6 separate regions of the Homo sapiens genome follow, and all the other regions are linked to region 6. Evidence: fine-mapped expression QTL. A gene starts in region 6. Each other region holds a variant in brackets. All regions are shown on one strand. Distances are from middle to middle.

What was found. PIP is the estimated chance that this variant, and not a neighbour inherited with it, causes the effect.
Region 1: its variant is the best candidate, but not a certain one, in a credible set for the expression of GGH in aorta (GTEx, PIP 0.62).
Region 2: its variant is the best candidate, but not a certain one, in a credible set for the expression of GGH in whole blood (TOPMed, PIP 0.88).
Region 3: its variant is the best candidate, but not a certain one, in a credible set for the expression of GGH in whole blood (INTERVAL, PIP 0.75).
Region 4: its variant is the best candidate, but not a certain one, in a credible set for the expression of GGH in aorta (GTEx, PIP 0.85).
Region 5: its variant is the best candidate, but not a certain one, in a credible set for the expression of GGH in monocytes after LPS (Fairfax 2014, PIP 0.81).

The regions. Positions count from the first base shown.
Region 1 is chr8:63,089,608-63,094,683 of GRCh38, forward strand. No RefSeq gene overlaps it. Among named protein-coding and RNA genes, the nearest start is that of TTPA, 6.1 kb to the left of the region's middle. The variant T/A (reference allele first, on the strand shown) is at 2,260.
Region 2 is chr8:62,947,334-62,952,409 of GRCh38, forward strand. The region is part of intron 5 of NKAIN3 (sodium/potassium transporting ATPase interacting 3); the gene reads left to right. Among named protein-coding and RNA genes, the nearest start is that of GGH, 89 kb to the right of the region's middle. The variant G/A (reference allele first, on the strand shown) is at 3,171.
Region 3 is chr8:63,013,750-63,018,825 of GRCh38, forward strand. GGH (gamma-glutamyl hydrolase) reads right to left here. Exons shown (of 9, transcript NM_003878.3): 8 at 3,744-3,881; 9 at 1,330-1,704. The coding sequence ends at 1,583. It overlaps LOC107986946 (a long non-coding RNA gene), which reads left to right. Exons shown (of 4, transcript XR_001745930.2): 4 at 410-661. Among named protein-coding and RNA genes, the nearest start is that of GGH, 23 kb to the right of the region's middle. The variant A/C (reference allele first, on the strand shown) is at 2,042.
Region 4 is chr8:62,350,756-62,355,831 of GRCh38, forward strand. The region is part of intron 1 of NKAIN3 (sodium/potassium transporting ATPase interacting 3); the gene reads left to right. Among named protein-coding and RNA genes, the nearest start is that of NKAIN3, 100 kb to the left of the region's middle. The variant C/T (reference allele first, on the strand shown) is at 2,022.
Region 5 is chr8:62,887,556-62,892,631 of GRCh38, forward strand. All of the region lies in intron 4 of NKAIN3 (sodium/potassium transporting ATPase interacting 3), which reads left to right. Among named protein-coding and RNA genes, the nearest start is that of GGH, 150 kb to the right of the region's middle. The variant T/TA (reference allele first, on the strand shown) is at 2,378.
Region 6 is chr8:63,036,480-63,041,555 of GRCh38, forward strand. GGH (gamma-glutamyl hydrolase) reads right to left here and starts at 2,327. Exons shown (of 9, transcript NM_003878.3): 1 at 2,181-2,327. The coding sequence starts at 2,289. RefSeq lists a silencer at 2,361-2,720.

The DNA of each region.
Region 1 (5,076 bases), 53 kb after region 6:
TTCTGGAACTAATGGTATGAGGAAATAAAAGCAAAACTGGAATGAAAAGTTAGTTGACTTTTGTAGCTACCTTACAATTTACTCTGAAATTATTTAACATTTAGTTATTTATTAGCATAATAATTCATAAGTATACCAATTTATTTTACTTTCAGCTTCACAGAAAAGACAAATATTTTTCACTGTTAAAAGATAACATTTTCAAAAAGAGATAAAATTATGACACTTATACATATATAAAACTGAACAAGTGTTAAAGATTTTATTCAACTGGTAAGGAGGAAAGTAGACACATGTTATTGCAAGTTCAAATAAGTTAAAAAAAAAAGCACACATTTACATGGAGTAAAGGATGTTGAAAGGGATGTGCAAATGGAGGCAAAACTAACTTCTTTCACAGTGAGGGAGAGAGGTCAATCAAAACTCCTCCAGGCAGTTCAGAATTAGCATGTTATTAGACAAGAATTATTTGCCATTGCTATCAGTTATCTACAGTTCACAGAATTGTAAAATAGCTTCGATAGAATGAGAATCAAATAATGCAGGAGGTGCCATCTAGAGTCTATGTAATGCATAATTTTCCATTGAAGCAGAAATATTACCCCACATCACTTGGGAAACTCTATGTAAAATTTATAAAATAATATTTACCACAGAACATTTCAACCATATGTAAAAATAATAGTAATGAATACCAATATACAGTCTGCTTCAGCAATCAATGATATTTTGCCAATCTTGTTTTATCCACCTCCCCTACTTTTTTAATAAGCTGAAATATTTTAAAGACATACCCACATATCATACTATTTTAAATATCATACTCTTGTAAATACTACAAAATAAATTTTTTACATCACCACGATACCATTTTTCACACTTAAAAAATTAGCAACAATTCCCCAGTATTATCTAGTACCCACTCTGTATTCAAAATTCCCTGATTATCTCAAAAATATCTCGTTTAAGTTCTTCAAATTAGGATCCACATACAGTTCATACAGTGCATTTGGTTGCTGTGCATAAGTGTCAAGAATAGCCTCTCTCTTTTTTAAATGCTATTAATTTGTCGGTATAACCGGGTCAATTTTGTTCAGCATTTACCATCTTCTGGATTTTTCTGATTGCTTCTTACTGGCATCATTACATTGTTTTTCTTTTCCCTGCGTTTCTGGTAAAGAATAGTTAGATCTAGAGGATTGGTTAGATTTAGATTAAATCTTACTTTGGCAAGAATGTTTCATGAGGTGCATCACATGAAAAGGTATATAATATATATTTTATTCTCAGTGTAGATCCTCACAAAAGAGGAAAATGCTTTCAGAATGGACCATGCAATGCTTCCATGGTACGTCTCAAAAGATATTCCCCTGATGCTAGTGGACGACCCAACATCAATCAGCTCACTCTCTGATCTGCCTATCTCCAATGGGAATCTTATTGCCCTAGAAGGCAAATGTTTCCACAGCCTCAAAGTGTTTGAATTGTTCTTTCTCCCCCTCTAAATGCACAAAGAAATGAACAGCGCCCTGCAGTAATAACTATTTACTGCAACTGCTCTCAGATGTCTCCAAAATTGCTGCCCTTACCAGTGACCTGGTAGCTATTGCACACACAGTGGCTAAGTGCTTTCTCACAAAACACAGTAATCCCTGGTACCCCCTAAAGCCAAAAAGATCACGGAACTCAAGATGTATTAAAGACTTAAATGTAAAACCCAAAACCATAAAAATCCTAGAAGAAAGCCTAGGCAATAGCATTCAGGACACAGGCATGGGCAAAGACTTCATGACTAAAACACAAAAAGCAATTGCAACAAAAGCCAAAACTGACAAATGGGATCTAATTAAACTAAAAAGCTTCTGCACAGCAAAAGAAACTGTCATCAGAATGAAGAGGCAACCTACAGAATGGGAGAAAATTTTTGCAATCTACCCATTTGACAAAGGTCTAATATCCAGAATCTGCAAGGAACTTAAATAAATTTACAAGAAAAACAAACAAACAACCCCATCAAAAAGTGGGCAAAGGATATGAACAGACGCTTCTCAAAAGAAAACATTTATGCGCCAACAAGCATATTTTAAAAAGCTCATCATCACTGATCAGTAGAGAAATGCAAATCAAACCCACAATAAAATACCATCTCACACCAGTCAGAATGGCGATTATTAAAAAGTCAGGAAACAATAGATGCTGGTGAGGCTGTGGAGAAATAGGAATGCTTTTACACTGTTAGTGAGATTGCAGATTAGTTCA[T/A]CCATTGTGGAAGACAGTGTAGTGATTCCTCAAGGATCTAGAACCAGAAATACCATTTGACCCAGCAATCTCATTACTGGGTGTATACCCAAATGAATATAAATCATTCCACTCTAAAGACACATGCACACATATGTCTATTGCAGCACTATTTACAATAGCAAAGACTTGGAACCAACCCAAATACCCAGGATGTGTGTGGCACCTTTTTCTGGATTCCTCAAGGGGTCTAAGGGTGCGAGAAATCTCTAGATTTCTTCATGTGGCAAAAGGAAGGAGGAGCCAAAGTGGAAATAAATAGAAGAACAAGTCTTAGAGGAGTCAATTGGGAGAGATTTTAAGCTTTCCAAAGGCGAATGAAGTTTTGCATTTTTCTCATTAAAAAAACATGCCAACAAGAGAGGATGCAAACAGAGGGACCAGTCCCTCTGAGATTAACACCTTATTAAAAACGATTTCAGTCGACTGAAGAAACTTTCCAGGAACAGGGCCCAAAAGAGAAAAAGTAGAAAGATCTTTAAAAAAAAAAATCATAACTTGTTATCAGCTTTCAGTTAAGCTGGCTTCTGACCTTAGAGTTCTTTAAAAAAAAAAAAAAAAAAGTTTTCAAATCTCTTATCAGATTTCCACCAGCACAACCAGCCAATATTCCTGGCTTTTGAACTTTTTTTTTCTGTTAAACCAAAGGTATCTTTCCAAGTGACTCACTAAAATCAATAAGCCTTAACTAAGGTTATTACTGAAACTAAGGACACCCTAGACAGCTCCAAAGAGTCGCAAAGCAGTTCTCACAAGATGCAGGACCACAACAAAGATGGCTCAAAGAAAGGAAAGTTTTACTAGCCTCAAACAGGGAATAACCCACGTTTCTGTACAGCCATATTCTCTAGGCTCTCAGCTTCTCAACTGACCATCTACCTACAAAGACCCAAAAGCCTCATGTGCTCTCGGAGATGGAAGAAGACAGGCAATCAAAACCTGTCGTTGAAAGGGAAAAGGATCAGTAACAAAAGAGTACCTCCAAAAGTATCTTTTTAGAAGTATAACTTTCCAATGGTGTACTTATTCTTGTAGCGACTTAATCCAATAACTCTCTTCATGAAAAGCCCAGGAGGTAATTTTCCAGATTTAGAATAAATTTTCACCATATAAGCACGAGAGTTTTCTTGGAGAGAGCATAGAAAAGGCAATCTCAATGATTATCCAAGACAGACAGACAGACAGACAGAAAGAAAGAAAGAAAGAAAGAAAGAAAGAAAGAAAGAAAGAAAGAAAGAAAATTCACTCCTAAGAATAGGCTGAGATAGTAAAATACTTGTTGCCACAGATGGCTATGAATAGTGTTTGTTCTGCTGAAGTCTCAGAGAAGAAAAAAAAACATAGCATTTGTGCATACAGGGCCGCCAATATCCCACAAATCTGTGGATATTGTTAACAGACCTGTTAATCCATGACACTGGGTAGCTTCTCCTGGGATTGCACATTGCCAGGACTAACCAGACAACAACGTTGAGATGACAAAAGCCTCTTATGGATGGGACTTTTTATTAAGACAAACTGTCCTGAGAGCTTGACACATTTGGAACAAAAAGTGTGCTGCTTAAAATTGTGTGTGTCTTGGGTTCCAGACTTTTCAGACAGGGCTACCGGACAAGACGTGAAAATCACACCCCGAATGACAGTGCACCCGCTTGGTCACAAGTCAAGCTCTCAAAAACATTACAACAAGACAAGAGGAGAATCTCATTCAGTTTCTATTCATGGTTCTCACATTCTCTACCAGTGGGACAGAATCTATCTGATGGTATAACCCAAACCTTTCTTTCCTAAGCTCTGAGTCCTTGGTGGCCCTAACTTTGTTGGGTTAATGTAGTTTTTCTTAATTATTACCACATAACATAGAACTCTTGGGTGAATTCCTTAGGGTGCAAACATGGTCTTTCTTACCCCTATTCTGCAGCTGAAACCCAATTTCTCCTTAGTAATTCAGATCATGAAAAGTCTCTTCATGAAAAGCCCAGGAGGGGCTAGAATTTGGCTAGTACCATGACTCCCCTTTTCTGAAGGTCAATTCAATAGTAAGAGAAGCTGTAAATGGCTATGTGACAGTTTCAGTTTCTAATTTATTACAACCGTAACTGTATTCTCTAATCAAATAATTCTCTCGGGCACTAGGACCTCTAAATTTTCTGAATCAACGCTTTTTGATACAGTAAACAAAACTTAGTGAGTAGGTTATTAGATGTAATAATAAGAGACACATGGTCACTTTTATCTATTGTTTCCTGACCCTTGTCTTATGCAATAGTGTTTCTGCACCAAATATTGACCATGTGTTTAAGGTATATCGATATCCTCTAAAGCAAATTATAAATCTTGCAGGACGTTTTATCTCAGGTGGCACCATAACTGAGTCTTAGCTTGGTTCTTTGTCAATCTTTAGTTGATTCTAAGTCAATCAACTGTATCTAGGTGGTAAGAAGCTGGCAAGCCCAGTGAATTCTGTTGGAATGAGCTCTTCGCTATGCCTACTATGCCATAAAATAAATTCTGCAGTCTGAGGCAATGATGTGTGGGATACTACAGTGATGACAACACATCAGTGATGACAAAACAGCATCTACCCACAATGGTGTTTCTGAAGCTACTTTGGTGAGGAAAGCGAATTTATATGTGAAATGTGTAACTTTTCTATGAGAACATATTACTGCCTCTCCCTGATGTAAGTGGTTCAGTGTAATCAACAGGTCAGCAGCTGAATTGTCTCCCCAGAGAACAGTGCTATATTGGGGCTCAGTTGGCTTACATTGATGTCAA
Region 2 (5,076 bases), 89 kb before region 6:
AACATGAATTAAAGTTCTAGTGAAGAAGAAGAATTAAATTGATATATTTGAGCTCCTTCCAAGGGCTGGCAAGGCACTGTCCTGTATATAATATACATTTTTCTTGTCAATCTTCATAGTAAACCCATTGGAAGTTACTATTAGTGTTAGCCATTGTAGAAGAATTTAATTTCTAATAATGGTCACAACAGTATTTCCTGTCTAACTTCCCCATCAAGAAGTGGGGAGTTGCTGTTCTTGCCTCTTAAGCCCAGGCTGGATGGGCAGCTGTCCTGACTAATCAAGTTTGGTGGAAGTGGCTCTGAGTGACTTTTCAGGCCAGATCATAGAAGGCGACACAGCTTCTGCCTGGCTATATTTGGTTGCTAGCCCTTGAACTCATCTACCATTTTGCAAGGAAGCTCAGGCCACATGTAGAGCCCCTTGTGGAGAGCAACAAGGTCTCCAGCCCTCAGCCCCAGCTAAGCAAACAGCCAACAGCCTGTCTTGACTTGCCTGCCATGTGAATGCACCACCTCAGAAGCTGCTCCTGCAGCCTCCCGTGCCCCAGCTAACATTGCATGGAGCAAAAATAAACCTTTCCTGCTAGGCTCTGCTCAGACGTGCCAATACATGAGCAAAACAAATGGTGATTATTGTTTTAAGACACTGTTATGTGGTTGGGTGCTATATAGCAATAGATAACTAGAGCAAGCAGCTTGCCCATATGAGCAACTGCCGCTTAGAGGTTAAATAATTTGCCCACAGTTACACAACTAGTAAGTGTAGAGCTGGAATTCAAAACAAGATCTGCCTGATACATAAAATCAAGTCAAGAGGATGAAAGAGAGAGTTTTACCTATATCTGTGACTTGGTATTTCCTTTTTTTTTTTTCTTTTTTTGAGACAGAGTCTCTCACTCTGTCGCCCAGGCTGGAGTGCAGTGGGGTGATCTCGGATCACTGCAACCTCCTCCTCGAGGGTTCAAGCAATTTTCCTGCCTCAGCCTCCCGAGTAGCTGAGATTACAGGCACGCGCCACCACGCCCAGTTAATTTTTGTATTTTTAGTATAGATGGTGTTTCACCATGTTGGCCAGGATGGTCTCCATCTCTTGACATCATGATCTGCCTGCCTCGGCCTCCCAAAGTGCTGGGATTACAGGCGTGAGCCACCGCACCTGGCCAGTATTTCTTAAAATAAAAAGAAATTTGAAGAAAATATAGCAAAAAATATTTATCTTAAAGTGGAAACACAGGCATCTATTATTTTATATTCTACATTTTTCTGTGTATTAAAAGTGTTTTACAACTTTAAAGTATCTTTTCAAAGATGAAAGCAAAGTCCTTATCAAATTTCAAAATATGTTTAAGATCAGACATGAAAAATAAGTTAAACTTTAAATTGTGTTAAGTTGCCATATTTATAAAACCAGAGGCATTACTAATGTAATGTCTAGATGATAAAAGAAGATCTTGCTTCAATTTGCCCAGTTCCAACCTCTCTTTCTTCATCTAACGGTGTTAATTCACGTCTTCGTGCCAATGTTCTGAGCTTTTAGCTCAGCAGAATCTTGAAAAATCCAAAGAGATATGCATAAACGTACAGGAAAATAGACTCCAGTCCACAGAGGAGGATCCAAGTATCTATTCTGGATTTACCATAAGCAGCAAGCATTTCCATAAGAGAAGGGAAACATTAGCACTTAGACTGCCTCTGAGGAGCACAGTAAATTTCTCAGAGCTGAGGGTGACTCTCCCCATAGCCCCTGGAGGGCTACATCTTCAACTTCATGTGACATGTAGTGAATTATTTCTCATAGGAAGCTGCCAGGTTGAAAGCCAGCCACCTTGCACATGTTGTCTCCTGAACAGCAGCACGAGACGAAGGAGAGTCAATTGCCTTGAGTTCCCCTTTGATTCTGCATAAAGTCAATCAGGTTTGCCATGGCTGAGTGGGGACCTGAATCAGTAGCACTGAATTATCTAATGGAAACTTCATTTGTGTGTCCCATAAACAAATAGAAAAGTTGCTATTGGTTGTGTATTTTTTTACAAGTAGAATACAAGTCTGTATTTGCACAGTCAGATGCTGCTATAAATCTAAAGTAGCTCTGTAATTCCTTCAGTTCTGTGAGAATCCTTGTCAGGAATTGGTGGTGGCTAGAGCGAGTAACCACAAAGATATTCTGTTACAAGTAATATTATTTCTTCCAAGAAGTTGCTCGGCTGTGCTCCTGGAAGTTGGCACAGGAAGAAGATTTGAAAGGACTGCAAAAGGGTTTCCTGGCTGCAGGCTCTCTCCAGGGGATCTTTGATGGTAACACCTCAGGTTCTGAGAATGGGTGTAGAGAGCAGCCCACTGTGTGGCTGGCTTTTCTGGATAGTTGATGCCAACCCTTAATTGTGTTGCTTTTTTTTTTTCTAAAATATATTTTTCACTTCCAGGATCTAATAATCAAAGTACATGGAACTCAATTTCACTGTACTGCAGGCTCCCAGCAAGCTGTGCCCTGATGCTTCCTTCAGTTGCTCCATCTCTTCTGCTCAATAGTGTTCTTGCTGTTATAACTACAGATTTCCTTGGATGTTTTTATTCCAACCTTCCTTTTCTAATACTTTTGAAAACCTGTCCATACCTTTTCTATTTCTTTTCGTGTTTCATTGAAATTCACACCCTGATTTCCACTGAAGAAAGTACTTAATTCAGCATCTTCTCTTCTCTTATCTTTCTCAAAAAAGTGAATTTAAAAATGCAGTTGCTTTACTTTCTTATCAGTGTAATATGACTGCCTTTCCCCAAACATAATTAAAAACTGAAGGTCTTTCCTAATGAGTTATTTTTAAGTCTTTTGTTAAGTGTTCTATTTCTTAATTTTCTTCATTTTTTAAAGCACTTGATGTCATTTTAAAAAAGCTTTAAGAATCTGTAAACTCGCCCTCTGTGTACACTTTAATTTGCCCCTTTACTTGAGCTCTCATCCCACTCTAGCAAATGGAAGGTATTGATGCATGCATGACAAACTGTTTTTTAATATGAAAACATCCTCACCTTGAGGACTTGGTGGCTTCTGTGGCCAAAAAGACTCATTGCTCTATCCCATCCATGAAGAATTCTTGATATTTCAGTTTCTTTATTACTTACTTTTCAAAGATTCCTCCTTAATAGTTAAATTTTTTGTAGTCTTGTCTA[G/A]TTCTAGAATCTTGATAATTTAAGTTTTACCTATATGTGATATATTATTTCTAGAGTTTACAACATTTACATCATGCTAGGTTTCTGATATGCAGAGAAGGTATAGCCAAAAAACAAGTAACAGTTTAAAAAGAAAGAAGAAAACAAATAGCAATTTAAAAAAAAAGAAAAGAAAAAACACATAGAAGGTGTGGCTGATTTATAGTGCCATCAACTGCAGGAACCAGATGTCCTAATTTGGTTAAAACAGTCCTTGCTTACACAAGTTGCCCTGGCACTTTATCTGGTTTAGACTTTGTCCTACATTTTTTAGTTTTCAAATGAAATATTACTATTAATAGTTGTATTAGGCAAATCTAGAATGGCCACGTAGACAACTCTTTCCATTTCTACCATAGTCTTATCAAGGTATGCGAGATGCATGAGCAATAAACAGAATCCTTTTTTTTTTTTTTTTTTTTTTTTTAGAATTCTCTTTTAACTGTATGGTTAAATCTGTAAGAAAACCAACAATACCACTCTCTTTTCTCCAAAACTTAAAAGACACAATATAACTAGCACCTTCCTTTCAAGGGCAGTATGCAACCTGGTCACTGATAAAGATATGTACTTGGATAGGAGTAGTGGAGATGGCTAACACCTTCCAGTCTCAGGTGGGTGTGTGAGAGGCACTGAAATCTACAGCTCCTACCAGCACCTCTTCCCACCATATCCAGCTGGTAGGGTCAGTGGAGAGCACCTGGAAGTGTAAGTTAATGCACTGACACATTAGGAGAAGAAGAATTTCTCAGAGTTAAAATAATGATATCAGTCTTATATACCAGTTTATAATACTGGAATTACATTAGTTTATCAAATGCTTTCAACAGAACACCAATTAAATTATTTAAATAATTTTAATTTTTTAATCCAGTTCATAGAATTAGCATAAGCCTTTTAAATTTGTTTGTTTGTTTGCTTTGTTTTGCGGAAAGGATCTGAGTTTGTTTCCCAAGCTGGAGTGCAGTGGCACAATCTGGGCTCACTGCAACCTCTGCCTCTGCCCTGTGGGCTCAAACTATCCTTCCACTTCAGCTTCCCAAGTAACTGGGACTACAGGCACATGCCACCACGTCCAGCTAATTTTTGAATTTTTTTTTAATGGGGACGGTGTTTCCCCATTGTTGCCCAGCTGGCCTCAAACTCCTGAGCCCAAGCAATTCACCCACCTTGGCCTCCCAAAGTGCTGGAATTACAGGCATAAGCCACTGCACCTGGCTTAGCATAAGCCTTTATTTTATTTCATTTTTTATTTATTTTATTTTTATTATTTTTGGAAACAGAGTCTCCCTCTGTCACCCAGACTGGAGTGCAGTGGCATGATCTCAGCTCACTGCAACCTCCATCTCCCAGGTTCTAGCAATTCTCCTGCCTCAGCCTCCGAGTAGCTGGGATTAGAGGTGTGTGCCACCATGCCCAGCTAATTTTTTAATTTTTAATAGGGACAGGGTTTCACCATGTTGGCCAGGCTGGTCTCAAACCCCTGACTTCAAATAATCTTCCCAACTTGGCATCCCAAATTGCTAGCAATATAGGCATGAACCACCATGCCCAGCAAGCATAAGCCTTTTAGATGTTCATTCTGTCCAAGGTAAAACTCTGATATTATTTTAAATCCTGTCATAATCTAATTAAGTAGTAAATATTAAAGATAAATATATTTATTTTGTGGAAATAATACAATACAATTTTTGTGAAGTACAACATATGGGTTAAAAAAAACAAAAAATATTCTTACTAAGTTAAAAAATACATGAAGCAGAACTGTATTTGGAATTCAAGTGCACAGGAAACTTACAACTGCATCCTAATAAAGCCACACTATTTTACCAATGAAAACAGAAATTCAAAGTGTTTTCAAAATCTA
Region 3 (5,076 bases), 23 kb before region 6:
CAGGATGAAGTTGTTCTTGGGAACTGCAGAGACAAGCAGTTCTATATGGTTTCAACACAAATGGGCTAGGAAGAACCCTGGCACCGTGAGCAATAATAGTGTCACTACCTTTTTCTAGAGGTGGGAGACAAAAACTTAGCCAGACACATTCAACAGTAAGACTCAACAAAGAATCTTCATATTCATGGACAGAAACTAAATCTGCCACATTTCTAGTAAGGTTCTTTCTTGGTTAATTAAATGTATTAATCTCTTCCAATTTCTATGTGCTATTTGTCCTCATTCCCCAAAGATTATGGCTTAGCTCAGTGTCTGCAGGTGATTGTTCTTCTCTTGTTGCAGGTAAAATCATCCACGATGCCCTCCAATATCATTCCCAATCAGTTTCCTGTTTCCCCTTCTCTTGCAGAAGCTCTGGAAGCCCACAGAGAACAGATGCATAAACACCATTTACCAGACACAGCTCAGCAAACCCTCTCTCTCTTCCTTCCAGCAGCTTGGTTGTCCTCAAGGAGTTCCTAAATTTCATACTTCTGAGGGTTATATGGGATGGTGAGGGGTGGAGGAGAGTAGCACGGATTGAAAAATACATTAATGTTGGCTGGGCACAGTGGCTCACACCTGTAATCCCAGCGCTTTGGGAGGCCGAGGCTGGTAGATCACCTGAGGTCAGGAGTTTGAGACCAGCCTGGCCAACATGGCGAAACCCCATCTCTACTAAAAATACAAAATTTAGCTGGGTGTGATGGCACATGCTTGTAATCCCAGCTACTCAGGAGGCTGAGGCAGGAGAATCGCTTGAACCCAGGAAGCGGAGGTTGCAGTGAGCTGAGATTGCAGCATTGCACTCCAGCCTGGGCAACAAGAGAGATGCTCCATCTTAAAAAAAAAAAGAAAAATACATTAAAGTGTACCAAAATAAATATATGACAGCTTTTAAATTATTTTCCATGGGAAAAAAACTTATAATTAGTGACAATTACTTACTGAGGGCCTGCTGGGCTAGACATTATGGACATTGTGAAAGATAAAAAGTTCAAGACACAGACTCTGTTTTCAGGATGTGTACGCTTTAAATATGAAGTTAACACAGGGCAGAAAAGTAGATACACACATGCACACACATACCTATACACACATACCTACACACACACACACACACACACACACACACAAATACTCCTCAGACCCAAAGGACGGAGACATCACAATGAACAAGATGAACAATTGGTAGGATTTTAAAAGACTATTTTCTTTTTCAGCAAGGAGGATGGAGTGGGCAGGTAGGGGATGGTATTTATTTCCCAAGCAAATCAATTAGAAAAAATATTTGTATTTCAGTAAATTTATTTTTTTCAATCTTCAGATATAAGAAGGCTTTTCCATGAAAAACACTCTATTTATGTCTCACTATTTAATTATCTAATGTTATATAAATAGTCACATACAGAATGAAGAATCAGAGCCAGGCACATTATAGAAAAGAATCTGTGACTTCCTAATCTTGCCATGAGTAGCAAGTTATTCTAACAGTTTAATCATGGAATTATTCAAATTTGCTCTGTTAACAAATTGAAGACTTTCAATCAAATATGTAACATTGCTGAAATGAAGAAATATTTCCAGTATAAATTGGACTGAACTGATAAATCAATGCTTTCTCCTCTTCAGATTCAGATTTAAAATGATGGTTGTTTTTCCGAGCTGCAAGAAAAAAAGTTAATTTTTAAAAAGATCAGATGACAAAATCTTCAAGAGACTATTTTATAATATTTCTTCCTGCAATCAGCATTATTAAGTGGGAAAATATCAACAAGAAGAGAAATGCGACTGCTCTTCCTATAGAACAGCCATCTTTTTTTTTCTTTACTTCTCTAACAAACTTACTTTCCAAAAAAAAAAAAAGAAGAAGAAGAAGGAACCAAGGAAGGGAGGGAGGCAAATGCTTGACAAAATTTCCCCAAATAAAGCAGTGCCCGATTTATGGCACAGTCGCGCATGGCCACAGCAGCTGTGCTGTACTCCCCCTGCAGCATATCCC[A/C]TGCTATGCTCACTCCGCAACTCATTCAAATACCTACCTATCAAATACACAAGACTTGATAACACAGCCTGGGGATGGAAATATAAACAGAACAGGTCCTAACACTCAAAAAGCTCAGCCTCGTAACCACACAGAATCATATGATAAAAATGTTTTTATGGTATATGGTGTATCATCACTGGATGCTACAAGAGTAAAAAAGATGGAGAAACTGGTGAAGCTGAGGCAGACAGAGAAGTGAGACATTTTCACTGGTAAGGCAGCATTATGAAAAACCAGGAGGCACAGTGAGAAGTTTGGCATGATGAAAGCTGGAATGTGAGGAGGTGAGAGCTCCTAAAGCTCCCAAAGTCAAAGTAAATACAGGCTCTTACGGCATTTTCAGAAAGAATGTTGGAAGATAAAAGACCACATAGACCAAATGCCACATGACTACTACTGCAGCAAATGCGGCACTGCCACTGCTGCCCTCATTCACTCCACGCACTCATGAAAATGTTCCTTTGGACTAATACTGTATATGGGATACTTTTTTTTTTTAATTTGGAGTTTTTGTCATAAAACCATCCACTCAGCTCTGCATGATTCTAAAGCAGAGTGAACTCAGTAGGAAGTACTTGACTTCCCAGCAATGGCAGGAGAGTTGATAAAAACTTAGGGCAAGCTTGGAGATGGAATGAAAGCAAAGTTCACTTAAGTCTTTAAATGGCTATACCTCACCAAAGTGATCTCTACCGTTTACAAGTTGTTTTTGTACCTCTGTCTTACACAGCTAGTCTTCACTTAACGTCATCGATAGGTTCTTGTAGTACTTTTAAGCACAACGATGTATAACAAAACCAATTTTTTTCTAACAATGTTATAATGAAACGACTTCAAAGTAAACAGTGTTGTTCAAGGACCTGCTACACACAGTTCTGCTTAAATCGTAGGACTTACTGTACCTATAATGCTCAACTAAGAAATAGGCATCTACAACCAAATTCTCGATTTTTCCCACAAACATAACACAGCATGAATATGTCTGTGTTTTCATCACCAAACAGCAGGCAGAGTTTATTTGCTTTCTCCAGTATGCCAATGCCTACAGAGAGGTAGCCTTAAAATCACAAACTGGTGGGTATATATTCAATTTGTATCACTGTCTTGGAAAAGTAACACCTAATTCTCAGACACTGTTAGAATTAAAGCATTATTCTAAGAAATGGAGAGTAATGGGGAAGAATCTAAATTAAAAGTATCCAAGAAGAAAGAGCTTGGTGTGGTAGTCTGCACCTGTAGTCCCAGCTACTCAGGATGCCGAGGCAGGAGGATCCCCTGAGCCCAGGAGTTTGAGGCTGCAATAAGCTATGATCACATCACTGCATTTCAGCCTGGGCGACAGAGCAAGATCCTGTCAAAAAACAAATAACAAAGAAAAAGAAACCAAAAAAAAAACTCTCAACATTCTTCACACTGTTGTTCAAGAATTCTGCCCACTGAAGCATGTATGATAATTGAAGTAACTGTCCTGGTTTTATTAGAATACCTTACATCTTGATTTTAGGGCTTTCACATTATTTAACATTTGTATTATTCTTTAAAGTTAAACCTATAGAACTTACAAAACATTTATAGAGCAAAAGGGTAGGCAAAAGTTCAGATAAGGGCAATTTTCTTCAAAACTACCCCAGAATAACAAAATTATGTACCCTCATATTACCTTCATTAACAAAAAACTCTGCTAAATAAAATGCGGTTTTCACAGCATTAGGTGCATGGGAAATGCCATCCAAATTCTTCCACTCATAAGGTGCTTTCTCTGGATGCCACTGGACACCATATACTGGATACTTATATCCTGTAAGAAGAACACAAATTAGTAAGTACTAAGAATGGTTTAAAATGTTACTTATAATGAAATTGGTTTATTTCTTATGTAAAACATTTTATAATTCACCTTATCAGACAAGGTAAAATTGTACATATTCTCTCAGACACAAAATAATTTCCATTCATAATCAATGTGAAAATTCCCTGTAACGTATTTCACTGATTAGCAACCTTTTACAATCTGTAGGACGATTTGCTTTTCGAGATACTCATAGCAAAGTAGAAGCTGAGCTGAGGAATCTATCCCTGTCCAAAAGTCAGATGCACATTTTATTGGTGATACAAGTTTCTTCCGCAGTGGGTCTCTTTCTCCCGTCTTGTAGCATGCTTTCCTGTCCTCCCATAATGACTTATTCATATGAGAATGAAGTATGGCAGCACTTCTGGTATCCTTTTACACCCTGCCTAAACTGCCTAAACTGTGTCTCTCTCTCAGTCTATGGAATGACTGATGACTTTGTGGTATAAATTTTTAAAATATTTTTTAGAAGTTTAAAAGCAGACATAAAACAAGAAGGGAAACAGAGCTGTTGACAATTGTCAAAGCTGATAGATAGACACCCAGGGTTCATATTACTCTCTCTATGTTTACATACTCATGAACAATTCCACAATTCAAAAAAAAAGTGAATATGTGTAATAGTTACCTTCAGAAAAATGTACATATTTGTCTCTTCTTCAGATGTGCCTTTCCTCATTTTGATTTAAAAAAAACAAATCTCCCCTCTATTATTTTCTGCTTTGGAATTGTAACCATGACCACCATCAGAAAGTACTTGGAGAAATGAAGTGAATTAATGAAAGAAGAGATATCTAGGGGTAAGAGCACTGTCTGTTCTCATCCCAGTAAGCTTTCTGACTAGAGAGCAGGCCACAGAAGGGAAACATTTTATCCCAGTTTTGTGGGTATTCACGAGAGGAAACACCTGCCTCATGCAGCTCCAGGCACTCAGCTCCCTGCCTCCCCCACTTCCGTGTGACACTGCCGTTTTTCCCCTCTATTCTGGGACTACCTGTGAAGCTACCAGCAAGAGACCCACAGGCTGGGGGACTAGGAAATTGTTACATAGAGTTAATTGAAAGGCAGACCTTCTAGTATATTGGATATAAATCTTTTTTATGATTTAAGACTATTTTTGTCCTCAATAATGCTTCATGCGTTG
Region 4 (5,076 bases), 690 kb before region 6:
TCTTGGCTCACAGCAACCTCTGCCTCCCGGGTTCAAGCGATTCTCATGCCTCAGCTTCCAGAGTAGCTGTGATTACAGGCACTGCCACCATGCCCGGCTAATTTTTATATTTTTAATAGATATAGGGTTTCACCATGTTGGACAGGCTGGTCTCGAACTCCTGACCTCAAGTGATCCACCCACTTCGGCCTCCCAAAGTGCTGGGATTACAGGCATGAGCCACCGTGCCCAGCCGAGTAATGAGCTTTTCACCACTGACAGTGATCAAGCAGAGCAATCAGACAGAAGTATATAAAAACAGATATAAAATTAAAATGTAAATAGTATATATAATAAATGTATAAATATATAATATATATTAACATATATACTATAAAAAGTTATGTAAATGTTAGAATAGATAATATAGTCATCCCTCTGTTCCCTGGGGATTGATTCCAGGATGTCTACAGATATCAAAATCCGAGGGTGCTAAGTTTCTTGTATAAAATGGGAGAGTATTTGTAAATAGCCTCCTCACATTCTCTCACATACTGTTTAATCATCTCTAGGTTATTTATAATACCTAACACAATATAAATGCTATGAAAAGTTGTTACATATATTTGTATTTGTATTATTTTTATTGTTGTATTATAATTGTTTACTCTTACTTTTCCTCGGAATATTTTTGATCTTCATTTGGTTGAATTCACAGATGTGGAACCTGTAGATACGGAGGCCTGACTGTTTATATTATAATATATAAAATAAATATACATATAAATATATAAACATTTAAATACACAACATATATCATATATAATAAGAATACATATGTATATTTGTGGTTATTTGTCTTTAAAGCATCTTGTAGTTTGTGCAAATTGGACAAATTATAACTTCACTACACCTCAGGTATTTTGTTTATGAAATATAAATCAGTTCCTACATTGAAAAGATGTTATAACAACCAAATAGCATCATAATATGAAATTGACCAGTTTTTGTGGTTTATCAAATGTCCATTAAATGTTAATTTCTATTGGACTGAACATAATGAAAATTACCTTTCAGTTTTCTGGAATTTATGATTGTAAGAGGAGGTAGCATCACCAAAAAGTAATGACAGATTGATTTTGAGATGCTATGCAGGCATCCTGGGCAACTGTGGAAGAAGAAGCAGGTTTACAGAAGTTATGTTCCAGGATGGAGACAGAGGTGTTCCTCCTGGTCAGGGTCCCCATGTGTATGGATGAACACTATGGATGAAGCTCGTGGGCTGGTCAAACACCAAGTATGAACTGGCAACACTAACCAGGCAGGGAAATGGGTTGAAACTAAAGGATCAGCTACAAATTGGAGAGAGGACATATTAGGAAGAGATAGTTATGTTATTAGCCCAAATTAGACTTAGGAGAGCAGGAAGGGATGTTTAGGGAAATCAGGCAAGGAAGAGGACAGAGGTGCTGAGACACTTCTGTCGACCTGACTCCTTCCCATTGCTGAGCTTCAGCTCAGGCTTAGCCCTCCTCGCCTGTGACCTCTCATCCCTCAGCACTCTGATCAAGATCTCCTTGCTGAAGCTCCTGAGAGAAGTGACAACTCTCTTCTGCATCTGACACACCTTTCTCTCTTAGCACATGGACCATTTTATTCACTCATGCTGATTCCAATATTAGACTTGAAGTGCTTTGAAAGAAGAAGCAACATTTTCTTTGCCTCCTTGGGAGTTATGGAGCCAATGAATCAAATAAAAACATGCACAGACAAGAAGGCTCTGCAATGCATGAGCCAGTCAGAGGCTCTGGAGGATTCTTTGAGGGAAAAGAAGCTGAGCATCGTCTTCTAAAATAGCCTTCTCCCCGCAACATTAAAGATAACTGGCATTTGATCTACATCTTGGAGAGTCAGATAGAAAAGGTTGCTTTTTATCTCTTGAAATTACTTTATCTCACATTGTTTGAACCTTAACTGAACTGCTAACCACCATGAGGACACTGTACATCATGTTATAATTACAGGTGAGCATGCGTGTCTCC[C/T]GTCTTCTCGGCAAATTCTCCAGGTCCACAGAGAGACCATTCATCTTTGTGGAACACCCACTACTTTCTTACCTAGGCAGTGATTGGAAGAAATATTAGGTACCACATTAGTATTTTGGAGTGAATGAATTAATGATATAAATTCTCAGGACATTCAGGCAGACTGATGACTTCAGGGGTCTGTACTAATAGGAAGAACAAGAGTCCATCTGCCTTCTTGTTACTTGATCAGTAATAAAATCAAACCAACAGTCTGCACTCCCAGATGTTGTGTAGGCTGTGTCTTTAAGTTAAAAAACTACAAAGCCTCAGTGTGCCACCCAGTGCCTAGTAGGCCTGTGCCATCAGTGTAGAAGACTGTGCTATAGAGATCTGTGACAAGGGTTAGTCATGCAGTGGTACATATACCCAGGTGAACCTTGGCCTGTTTTACAAAAAAATAAAAAAATAAGCCAACTCTAAGACAGGGTTAGTTTAAGTGTAGTTTAATAGTTCCTATGTACATTCTTAGTAAGAAATGTTAGCCCAGGGATTTTAATGCAATTAGAACTTAAATTCTATTTCTGCAAAGAAATGAGTTTTTATTAACATTACTGATGTGAAATGATTTCAGAAATCCCCAGGCTGCCAACACTGAAATTTGATCCATAGCCTTGATTCTCCTCACTTTGCATACTTGTATTTATTCATTCATTATTCATCTATTCATTCATTAAGCTATTAGTCACAAATATTTGTTAATGTATGAATGGTATATTATCTGTTTTTTAAGGAAATTAAAACTATGAGATATAGCACTAGATTATAGCCTCGCCTATTTCACTGGGCATTTTAGGAAGGCAGTAATTGATAATGTGTCATTAATTTTTATGTGATAATGTCTATTGCAGTTCCTGGCACATAGTAGGAACTCCATAAATACTTACTAATAAATAAATAAATTTCCTACCCTTATAGAGAATTTTTTGTCAAATGTGAGTAACTAATTTTTCTTATCCCATATGGAGAATAACTTTTTTGTGACTAATATTATTGGGATTGAAACAGACACAAAGACAAAATTTATAATATAAAATAGATAAATTGATTTAAGATTTCACAGGCATGATGTTAATGAACATTTCAGATGCTGGGAGAAATTTCAAAACTAAAGCTACATTTTAATGGCTCCTTAAAAGAAGCGAGTGTGCATAAGGGATTTGTGAGGAGAAGGGTTGATTATAGCTCAATCTGAGATGTTTAAGAGTGGATCTTTAACTGAATAGAAGAGATTGTGTTTTGAAAATGGAAAGCATACAGGTTATTTTTGTTTTAGGAAGGAGACACCATGAATATCTCAAAGCTTTAGAGAAGTGAAATTCTTTTAGAAAAACAACGTTGTGATTAAACAATAAAAACAAAATATAAGCACCATTCTTGCCATGGTTTTTGTTATTTCTAATACAAATTATATGTAATCATCAAGCTGGAAAGGGCACTAAAGATCTTTTAGCCTACCTTCTTTTTTTAGGTGAGTAAACTGGAGAATATAGAGATTTTTCAAGAACTGGGAAGGGTCTGAGATTTTAGGCTATTTGCAAACTAACTAGTTAGCTTGTCACGGTTTCATGAATGCTGGTAGAAAATGCAAGACTCCTGGATAAGAGGTGAAAGACAGTTTCTTTTTTCTTTCTTTCTTTTTTCTTTTTTGAGACGGAGTCTCTGTCATGCAGGCTGGAGTGCAGTGGCGCGATCTCGGCTCACTGCAACCTCTGGTTCCCAGGTTCAAGTGATTCTCCTGCCTCAGCCTCCTGAGTAGCTGGGACTACAGGCATGTGCCACTGTGCCCGGCTAATTCTTGTATTTTTAGTAGCAAAGGGTTTCACCATGTTGGCCAGGCTGGTCTTGAACTCCTGACCTCAGGTGATCAACCTGCCTCGGCCTTCCAAAGTGCTGGGATTACAGACGTGAGCCACCGCGCCAGGCCGACAGTTTCTTATACACGGAATGACAATAACCAATGTATCAGCATCTGTATATCCAATCCTTAAGCCCCATTTCCCACAGGGGACATAAAGAAGGCTCCCTGATACATGTACAGGCAGAGCTGCATGGCAGGAGGAGAGCCCTGCACTTAGGACCCAGGACCTTTTCCAATGGGTAGAAGGCAAGTCGGCCCTTTCTCCTGGAGGGTGATTTATCTTTATTACACTAGAGAGTAAGCAAGCTATCCCTTTTCTCTAGAGGGTGATACTGCCTCTATCTTCTCAGGCTGTTTGCTTTCCAAACACCTTCAAAAACTTTATCCAGAACACAGGGCAGTCAGCACTTCACTGTCAAGATGCACAGAAATGTGAGAGATTCATAGAGAATTATTTTTCAGCAGGGATGAGTCACTTGTAGAAGACCACACAGTTGTCTTCAAGCTGAGGGTTCTTTTCACATCATTATGCTGTTTCCCCATAAATACCTGAAGCCACATCAGCATTTTCATGATGCGTAGATTCCTATTTTCTGGAAATTTGTTTTTTCCATTGGAGAGGCAAACTTTGAAATCTTCATAATAAGATTCATGAAGTCAAGACAGTTTATGCTGTTTCTAAATATCCAGGTTGTTTTACTGCCTCCCTTGCTTCTGGGATCAGCATTGGCATCCCAGTTTTACCTTGGATAGAATGTGGCCTGGCATTGCTTAGGCTGATGGAGGCAGTGGAGGTAGTTAAGAAGGAGATGGAACCAAATGTCCAGTAAGTCTGAATACAAGGTAACTCAGCATCACAGATGATTTTCCTGTTTTCTCAATTTTTCTAATATTTGTCACCAGTCTAAATGTACAAAGTCTTAGGGATGTAGATGAAATTCTGTGGCTTACTTACAACACTTAATTTATGACTTTAATTACCCATACATACTTCAATCACATATGCAATTATATGGTATGTTAGTGAAATTGCTCTTTCTCCCGTCTCCTGAAAAAGTGTTACTCAAATTCTACACATGCATTTGCGACATTTAGAGCCATTTTGGGGCCATCTGACGTGGTTTTCCAGGACCATCATTTCTACATTCATATTAA
Region 5 (5,076 bases), 150 kb before region 6:
TAAATAACTGTTATTGTTTCTTAGTTTTTTTATTTGCTTTTTCATTTTGAAGGTTTCTGTTGATATATGCGCAAGCTCAGAGATTTTCCTCAGCTGTGTCTAGTCTAGTAATGAGCCCAACAAAAGCATCCTTTATTTCTTATACAATGTTTTTTATCTCTAGCATTTCCTTTTACTTTTTTCTTAGAATTCCATTTCTCTGCTTACATTGTCCTTGTGTTTTGCATGCTGACCAATTTTTTCATTAAACCCCTTAGCATATTAATAATAGTTGTTTCAAATTTTTATTCCAGTAATTCCAACATTCATGCCATTTCTGAGTCTGGCTCTGATACTTCCTTTGTCTCTTCAAACTAAGAAGTTTGAAGTTCTCTTTTAGTATGCCTTGTAATTGTTTTCTGATAGCTGGACGTAAGTGCAGAGCAGAAGGAAACATGATAAATGTGCCTTTAACGATGTGGTGGTAAGGTGTAGGGGGAAGTGATGCATTTTACAGCCTTGCGATTAAGTCTCAGTTTTTGAGCCTCTGAATTGTGACCTTCACAAATAAGTCTTAGTTTTTTGCTCTCCCACTTAGATGAGAAAGGATTAGTAAAGCAGGCTAGAGTTGGGTATTTCTCTTTCCCCAGGTCATTAGGTTCTGATAAAATCCTAATAGTTTAGGTCATGTTTAAAATAAAAGTTTCTCTTGAGAGCAGGGCTTGTTAAGAACAGAATGCTCTGACATATTTCAAAACGGTTTCTTTTCCCCTAGCCCTGCTGAGGGCACAAGGGGATTTTTCTCTAATACTCACTGTGAGAACTTGGTGGAGCTCCTGTAAATAAAACTTACAAAAATGTGTGGGGTCCTCATTTTTTAACTTTCAAATGGTCCACTGTAAGCCTCCAACAATTCATCAATTACGGTCCAAAGTTTTCTACCCGGTTTAGGTTTCTGTTCCATTAAGTTGTGATTCTCTGTACCTACGTGCATATCTCCAATTTTGGGAGCAGTGGTTTGCCCTGCAACCTTACTTCTCTGAGTATCTAAGAAGAGTTGTTGATTTTTCAGTTTTTCTAGCTTTTATTGTTGGAGCATGGACTGACGACTTCTAAGCTTTTTCCCTTCCAGACCAGAAATGTAACCTTTAAAAACAAAATTGCTAACTTTAGGCATCTTTAAAAGTGAATATGTTTTGTGATTTAGCTTTTTGCCATCTATTTCAACCCTTCCTATCTGAAGTTTTGTATTAGTCCACTAGAACAATTTTTAGTTGTCTTGCTTCTTAGCTTATATCAGTCTTTCTTACTTTTAGAGCAATGAGTTATGTATTTATGTGTTATTCTGTGTTGTTTATTCAACAAACAGGTTTTTAATGAGACCTTCTTACCTTTTGTTGAACTGATTTGAGAGGTTCCAAAGAATTATTTTCAATTTTTAGCAAAAGTTTCTTAGACAAATGCTGTGTGTCAGCAATGGACTAGATGCAAAGTTACAAAGAAAAATAAAATAAAGTAACAGTACAATAAAAATTCAAAATTTTATTGAACAGTCCAGGCACGGTGACTCACGCCTGTAAACCCAGCACTTTGGGAGTCTGAGGCGGGTGGATTACCTGAGATCAGGAGTTCGAGACCGCCCTGGCCAACATGGTGAAACCCTGTCTCTACTAAAAATGCAAAAAATTAGCTGGGCATGGTGGCAGGTGCCTGTAATCCCAGCTACTCAGGAGGCTGAGGCAGGAGAATTGCTTGAACCTGGGAGGCGGAGGTTACAGTGAGCCGAGATCATGCCATTGCACTCCAGCCTGGGCAACAAGAGTGAAACTCCATCTCGAAAAAAATAATAATAATAATAAAATAAAATAAAACAAAACTTGTTGAACATCATAAGAGGTCCCTCAGAAGACCACCAAAATAATGTAATATAGTATTGCTGATAAGCTCAGGATGAGAGATAGTAAATAGTAGATTCTCCCAAGGAGGGAGCCATCACTTCTCACTGATAAAATCTAACCATTATTGAACAACTGATATGCCACTTTTGGATAAGTATGTTTTTAGTGATTAAAAAGTACCTAAGGAAGTGAAGAAATATTTTTTCTGGTTCTTGTAAGTTGAGAAAAACTAGTTAGGTAATGTTTCATTTAGAAATGCAGAATAGACACAACATAGAATTCCAGAGAAGATCGAGGTGATCTCAGGAAGCCTTCATGACAGAGCACCTAGGATAGACCTTGAGCAACGGCCAGGATTCGGAGAGGAGAATTTGGTGAGCAAAGGTCTGACATTGGGATGAGCGTGGCATAACTTTTAATTAGGTTTGGGTTTGAAAAGAAAGAAAATATATCTTATTAATATTTCTGGTTCCATGTTGAGAGGCCACAGTGGAATGGTA[T/TA]AAAAAAAAACAAAGTTTCTCAATATGATTTTGGTTGGTTTCAAGACAGAGAAAATATATATTAATACAAGCTCTATATTCACCTTCCCAATTAGAGTGTGGTGTGTAGAAAAGGCTGTAAAAATAATTTATCTTGAACATGTTCTTTAGTTGAATAGGTGATAGTTTCAGCTGTTGGAATCCACAACTACCCTTCTTCAATCAGTTGATCTGAAGCAGCATTAAAATGTTCTGATAAGCTCCCTTGGAAGGATAGTAAGCCAACATTTACTAAACATTTAAAAACACTGCCCTTCCAAGGGGATTATGGAAGCATTTTTATGCTCTCTGATAGCAAATAAGTATACTCAATACCAAATAGATGTTTAGCAAATAAGCATTGATAGCTCTGTCTTTGTTTGTAATTGTCCTTTTGTTAGCTAATTTGAGCAACAATGAAAGGATATGTCATACAGGTACTTTCCTCATTCAAGCCCACTGCCTACATGCAGGATGCAGGTCACAATTCTCTGTTCAGGCCAGTTCTTCCTTTCAACTAACTTATGTTTCATGAAGTTATTTTCTAATTTATTGAAAAGTAGTTTCTCTGCCCACAATGAAAGTACTTTATTTTCCTCTGTGCTCCTTATACAATAGTGTAGAAAGAGCATCCAGGTATGAAATGTATATAAACAAAGAATTAGCATTCCATACTTGAGTTTTCATCTCTTCCACCTGGAGCACCATTAGATGTTGATGCTCTTGGAATGAACCTGCTTGCACACTCACCAGCAGCCTCTCATCAATAGGAGAGGGACAGGATTGAGGTACCCTCTCTGCAGGCTTGCCTGTCTACCCAAAAGGGAAGTGGTAACCAAAAAGAAAGGGTGTGGCATTTGTTTTTCATTCCACCCTCTCATCACCAAAGTCCTTCCGCACCATTTGCTAATGTGGTATTTCCAAAATTTTATCCCTTTATGATTGTTAAATGGCTTTGTCCCTTTAATTTTCTATCCTTTGAAGACTACCAGATGTCTGTAGTTTGCTGCATCTGAGAATATCTGAAAGAGAGCAAGGTGGGAGGGTACCATGATGCTGGACCCTTCTGAAGGCCAATGGGCAGAGGCAAGTATGATAGTTAATATTGTCAACTTGATTGGATTGAAGGATGCAAAGTATTGTTCCTGGGTATGTCTGTGAGGGTGTTGCCAAGGGACATTAACATTTGAGTCAGTGAACTGGGAGAGGCAGACCCACCGTCAATGTGGGTGGGCACCATCCAATCAACTGCTAGCACGGCTGCAATAAAGCAGACAGAAAAAGGTGGGAGAAACTTACTTGCTGAGTCTTCTGGCCTTCATCTTTCTCCTGTGCTGGATGTTTCCTGCCTTTGAACATCAGACTCCAAGTTCTTCAGCTTTTGGACTCTTGGACTTACAAGAGTGATTTGCCAGGGACACTCTGGCCTTTGGCCACAGACTAAAGGCTGCACTATCAGCTTCTCTACTTTTGAGGTTTTGGGACTCAGACTGGCTTCCTTGCTCCTCAGCTTGCAGACAGCCTATTGTGGGACTTCACATTGTGATCATGTGAGTCAATTCTCGTAATAAACTCCCCTTCATATATACACCTATCCTATTAGTTGTGTCCCTCTAGAGAACCCTGACTAATACAGCAAGTGTCGCTGCGTGGTGGAAAAATCGAGCCAGCTTGACTTCACTATTAACTATTAAAATGCTACATCTAGTTAGCCTTTTGAACAGAGACAAAATTCCTTCCATATTTACCAATTCACATGGTAATTTTACTATTTCTAAGATGTAGATAAAAATCCTTCAAAAGCCACAAGATATAGTTTCAGCCTTAAGAATGTGGCTTCTTCCCTCTTTCTCCTTCTTTTCTCTTCATCACACTCTTCATCCTCTTTCTCTTCTTCCTTGCCTTCCCCCCGCTTTCTCTTTTTCATCTTCACACAATAAATACTAGCTGAATGATGAGACTAAAGTAGGGATGTCAGGAAAGACCCTGCTGAAAACTATTTGAGAATCCATGACCAGTGGAATAAGGCTTAAACTCCTGCTATTTGTAGGATTAGAATTGGTAGCAATGGCACAAACAACAAAACTAGGGCTGATGAAGATGGGTGACATAGGAGATACAATAGATTCCTAAGGCTGCCTTAATTCATTTTAGCAAGGATTAGATATACTTAATAGTTCCTTTTTATACAACCATTTAATTACTTTCCTGAGTAGAGGTATCTGTATGTATTATATAATGTAAAATCTTTCCAAATTAGAAAAAAATAATAAACAGAAATAAAAAGGAAAGGAAGGAGCATTGTCCTTTAGACAATATTATTTCATAGTCAGATCCTAACATAGGTTAACATTTCAAATGACATCTGCAAAATCTCTTTCTAAATCTGCTTCCATCATAGTGTTAAATACTTCACATTAGCACCATGTGGAGAAAAAGGCAGACATTTTTAAAATTGTCGTCTTATTAACTGATGTGAGAAAATGTTTCTGAATCTAATGAAGTATGAATTAGTTATATCCTTATATTTTCCAGGCTGTGATTATTAGTACCCTAGTGAAATGCTGAAATCACATGTTTGAAAATACAGATACAAACATATTTCTGAAGAAAATAAATAAACCAAATCAGGCTTGTTACTCTGGTTCAATAATAAATTCAAATATGAAGAACAGGAACTC
Region 6 (5,076 bases):
AGAGGACAAACAATAAACAAGACAAAAAGGCATAATATATAGAGTGATGGCTGGTCGTAAGCACTAAGGAGAGAAAGACGGTGGGGAAGGAGAGCCCATCTATGTAGGAAAGGACAGTCTCTTCAACACGGTGGCCAGGCAAGTCCTCCCTGAGAAGGTAAAACATGACATTTGAGCCAGGACTTCAGAGAGGTGACAGAGTAAACCACATTCATATATCTGGGAAAAGAGCAATCCAGGACAAAGGAATAGCAAGTGCAAAGGCCAGGAGTCAGATTTGTGCCTGTCACGTTGCAAGGAATCCATATTATTAGAGCCAGGTGAGTGAAAGCAGAAAGCAATAGGAAAGGACATCAGGTAGCGATAGATCAGCAAGCAGGTGTCACCACTTTGTTTAACTACCTCAGTGGGTCCCTAAACTTTAATAAACTCTGTAAGACCCGTATGCTCTGCCCCACCCATCTCTCTGGCCTCCTTTTACCAGTGAAACCCAGCCCCAGCAGAGTATAGCAACCAGTATACATCAAAACACGTCTGTCGGGTGAGTACCTGTGCCTACTCCTATTCAGCACTTCAGCATTTGGAACACTTTCAGTGTCTCTGTAGGCCACCTGATAGGAAGAGCTGTTGTCTGTATTACTCACTTTTGTATTCCCAGCTTCTTACAATTGGCATTCATCAGGTATTCAGATTAACATGTCAAACGCCAAAATTTGTTCAGTAAAACTTTTTCTCCTTACTGGTAGGTAAGATCATCTTCACTAAGGAATAACAAAGTTTGGCTAGGGAACGAAGAACTAGGAGTGTCATAGGAAATGGAGTGGTACAGGGTACATGGGGTGAGGTACCACAAAGGAGACATGGGGCATCATGGGAGCACAAGGGTACCAGAAAGAGAAGTACATCAGAGTGAGTTCCACCAACATCTCCCCTTCCCCTGGGCCCACGCATATTCACTTTTCCCATCCCTGGGAAAAGAGCTCAAGCTGTTCTCCCTGTCCCTCAAAATATGACCAAAATTCCACCAATAATTTAAGGCCATCTCACAACTTTTGTGGCTTGTCATCTTTCAATCCTTTGCACTTCCCAGAGCAAGATTGTGTACATAGTCGGTACTCAGTTAACGATGTTGTGCTGATCTCAGTGACCAAAAGCAAAGTCCCTTTTTTAAATATTTGACGCAGGGCTACCCCTGATTCTAGGAAAGGGGAAGAATCCCCTCTGCTTTTTTTTCTCTTCTCTGGACACACAATATGCAACCTGTTACATTAATTACAGCTTGAGTTAATTCGTGGAGAATCAAATCACCATGTTAAACAGCTATGAAATAAGTTCCAAATATTAGTAAGCAACCCATTTGAAAACTGGGCACTACCTATATGAAAAAACATTCATCTACTTTCTGTTTAGTTACAGAATACAGTGATAATATTCATAGAAAAAAATAGTATGAAAGGCATAATCCTACAGCCAAAATAAAACTAATCTTAATGTCCACACACAAATTTCTTTGGGCAAATTTTAACCCCAGGATGATTTCTCCTAGGTAGCTTTCCTTGGGCCTGTCTCAAATGTGTGTTTTGGTAACACAGACTGATTTTACTACCTCTTTAAAACACAAATATGTTGGAAACGAAAAATTGTGGGCTGCATTTTAACACCAAATAGAACTCACATTAGGATATCAGCCACTGTTGTCCTCTGCTACTGAACATGACAAAATCCAAGTTATACCTTAATTTCTTGATTTTCTATTACAATGCACTGGTATTTTAAATACGCCATCAATACATTTTGATGAATGCAATGCATGTACAGAATTTGTAGATGTAAATGAGTAAAACTTCCCAACTATGTGCGAAAAGGAAATGTTTTATTTTAGTAGAAATTCCTAGCTGTGTACAAAAAAAGAAAATCCGCAGGATTCTTCATGGTGCACCCTCCTCCCTCCCACCTTTAAGAGTCATATGAGTCTAAAGGAATGAACGAGGTACCTCAACCAGGTACATTTCAGTACGACCTAAATGGTGCCCAGCCCGGGTTCCTCCTTGCACCAAAAGCGAAGCACATCTGGGGGTTTTTCCCGGCGGGACGCGCCAGCTGGAGCGCGGCGGCGGGAGGCGCCCAGCGCCAACACCCAGCTCCTCCCCGTCTGCTGCGGCCCCGCACAGCCTCCTTACCGATGATGGGCTTCTTGGCGGTGTCGCCGTGGGGTCTAGACAGCTCGAGGCTCGCCGCCCCGCAGAGTAGCAGGCCCAGCACGCACAGCAGGCAGCCCGGACTGGCCATGGCGCTCGCCGCCTCCCGCCGCCTTTCAAAAGCTCTGCGGGCGGGCGGGGGCTGCGGCAGGGACACCTCGCGGCAGCGCACTCGCGTGAGACTCGGGTGGGCGGTGCTCCGCAGCGTGGGCCTATGGGAAATGCAGTCCCGGCGCGCGCTAGGCGGCCGTGGGGCGGCGGTGGGAGGCTCTGGGAGTGCAGCCGGCGCTGCGCGCCCGCCCCATTGCTCTGTCCCCGGTCCGCGACCGCGACCGCGACCCCGACCCCCACGGGCCGCCTAAGCGGAGACTCTGGAAACGCCTGGGGCGGGTACCGGGTGGTCTCCGCGTCCTTCCCTTTCAACTGTTACGTCGATGTGGACTTCAGTCACCCGTACAAAGCTGGGCTGGCCAACCCAGGTCCTCGAGAGGGGAGGTTGGGTGTCCCCGGCCGAGTTTGGTAACCAGGCAGCGGGGAGGCTGGCAGGGGATTCTAGAAGGCGCCTGAGAACTGCGCGCCAACCGCACCGCCCCCTTGAAGGTCGGGGCCCTATCTCCGGGAATGGTGACAACGTTCGCTGTACGGACAGCCTGTGCCCCTGAATGTGAATGTCCACACTTGCTATTTGGGGGGTCGCGGCATCTGTAGGAAGTGAAGACGGGACGGCGATAGGAACACACGCACAGGCGCATCACTAGGGTCAGAACTGGGCCAACTCCGGGCGTCTACTTTGAAGCGGGCACGCCCAGGCCACGCCTGCAAACGGCGTCAGCTTCCTCTGATCAACCGCGGTCAGCGCCATCCACCGACCACCACTAAGCCTATCCACCGGGGCAGAAAAGATGACTGGTTCCTATTCGTTAAAACTGTTGATTGTTCCTAAATACATGGATATATAGCTTGTACTCAGTGAAAGTTTCCATCTATAAGGGCCAACTGAAATTCAGCATAAAACAAGAATATTTGAAAACCTGCTACATCAATGCTCAGTATTAAGGGTGAAAACGTAAATTGGACAGTCTTTTTCACAAGAGGTTTAAATTCAGTAAGGAAAAAAGGCAGAAAGCGTGACTCGTAGAGACAACAGGAACAATTTTAGCATGTTGCAAGAAGAGTAAATGCAGTGAATAGTCTGGTTTAACAAGAAAATAACGCTTCTGTAGAAGGGTGTGGTGAGAGGTAAGCAACAAAGGATGTGATGAAAGACATGAAAGGGCCGAGCTGGTTTTGAGCATGATTAAATAGACAAGTAGCCTTGTAAATATGAACTTGTGGTGCCAGAATAATTGACTATCCACATAGGAAAAATTTTTTACCCGGCGTTACACACAAAAATAAACTCGAGGTGAAGTGCATATGTAAATACGAAAGCAAAATATTATACTTTGATAAGAAAATATATAAATATATCTTCCTAACTTAGGCTGTTGGAAGAGTTTCATAAAACATTAAAAATAAAAATGTTAATTAAAAATTGACTATATAAGAAAATTAAAGTTAAAGCACAAACTTGGAAAATATAGTTATAAAATATAAAGTATTTCTAAAATATGCGAAGAAATAATAAGAAAAATGACACAATAGAAAAATGGAAAAAGAATGTGAAAAGCAAACCAAACTTTCTGTAGTCATCAGAAAAATGCAAGATAATATGTCACATCCATTAGACTGTGTAGAAAAACAGCCTGTTTCCTGGCAAGAGTGACACCATCTTGAAGCAAAACTATCCTGGGGACTGATGTTTGACCCACAGCATACCGAGGTGTTCTGCAGCAAAGGTCTTTAAACAATGCTCATAACATATATAACCCCTCATAAAGATGCTTATCTAACGTCCCCAGTGATCACAATAGTCTAAGAGCTAACTAGTTGCACTTGTCTTTACCCTAGAGGCTTGCTAAATAAAGCATACTTTCTGGAGGGCAAGTGCAGGGGTCGCTTCTGTTTGTCTCTACTAAGTATTTCTTTCTGAGAAATTCGATTGGTCAGCCTCTTTGGTCTCCCAGCTTCCTCCATCTTTGGAAGCAGGTTTCTGTAAATTGACAAAAATGTAAGCCTTTGATAATAAGTCAAGGATGTAGTAAAATGACAGTTCTCTGCATTTCTTGTGGAATTGTAATTATTATAACTATTTTTGAGAAAAATTAAGCAATATCTGGTAAAGGTGAAGATCTAAATGTTCTGTAACCCAGTACATTCTGGATATAAGTGTGTACCTAGATTAATGCGTGCTCATGTGAACAAAAAAAATATGTGTAAGTATGCTCTTTGGAGCATCTTTTTGTAATAGTAAAATATTAAATGTAAATGACCAATGTCATAAAGTTTTTCCCATGTGTTTTCTTCTAGTAATTTTACAGTTTCAGGTCTCATATTTAACTGCTTAATTCACTTTAGTTGATTTTTGTTCATGGTGAGAGATAAGGGTCTAATTTCCAGATTTTCCAACACTGTTTATTGAAGAAGATGCCCTTTCCCCATTGTGTGTTCTTGGCACCTTTGTCAAAAATCAATTGACAGTATATGTATTGGTTTATTTTTGGGCCTTCTATCCTAGTGCATTGGTCAATGCCCGTAATTTTATGCCAGTACCATGCTAGTTTGATTAAATTACTATAATTATAATATGTCTTGAAATCAGAGTATGATGGCTTCAACTTTGATTTTTTTTCTCAAGATTGTTTTAGGTATGTGGGGTCTTTTGTGGTTTCATACAAATTTAAGGATTTTTTTACATTTATGTGAAAAAAGTGACACTGGAATTTTGTAGAGATTACAATGAATCTGTATATTGCCGTAGGTCAGTCATATAGACATG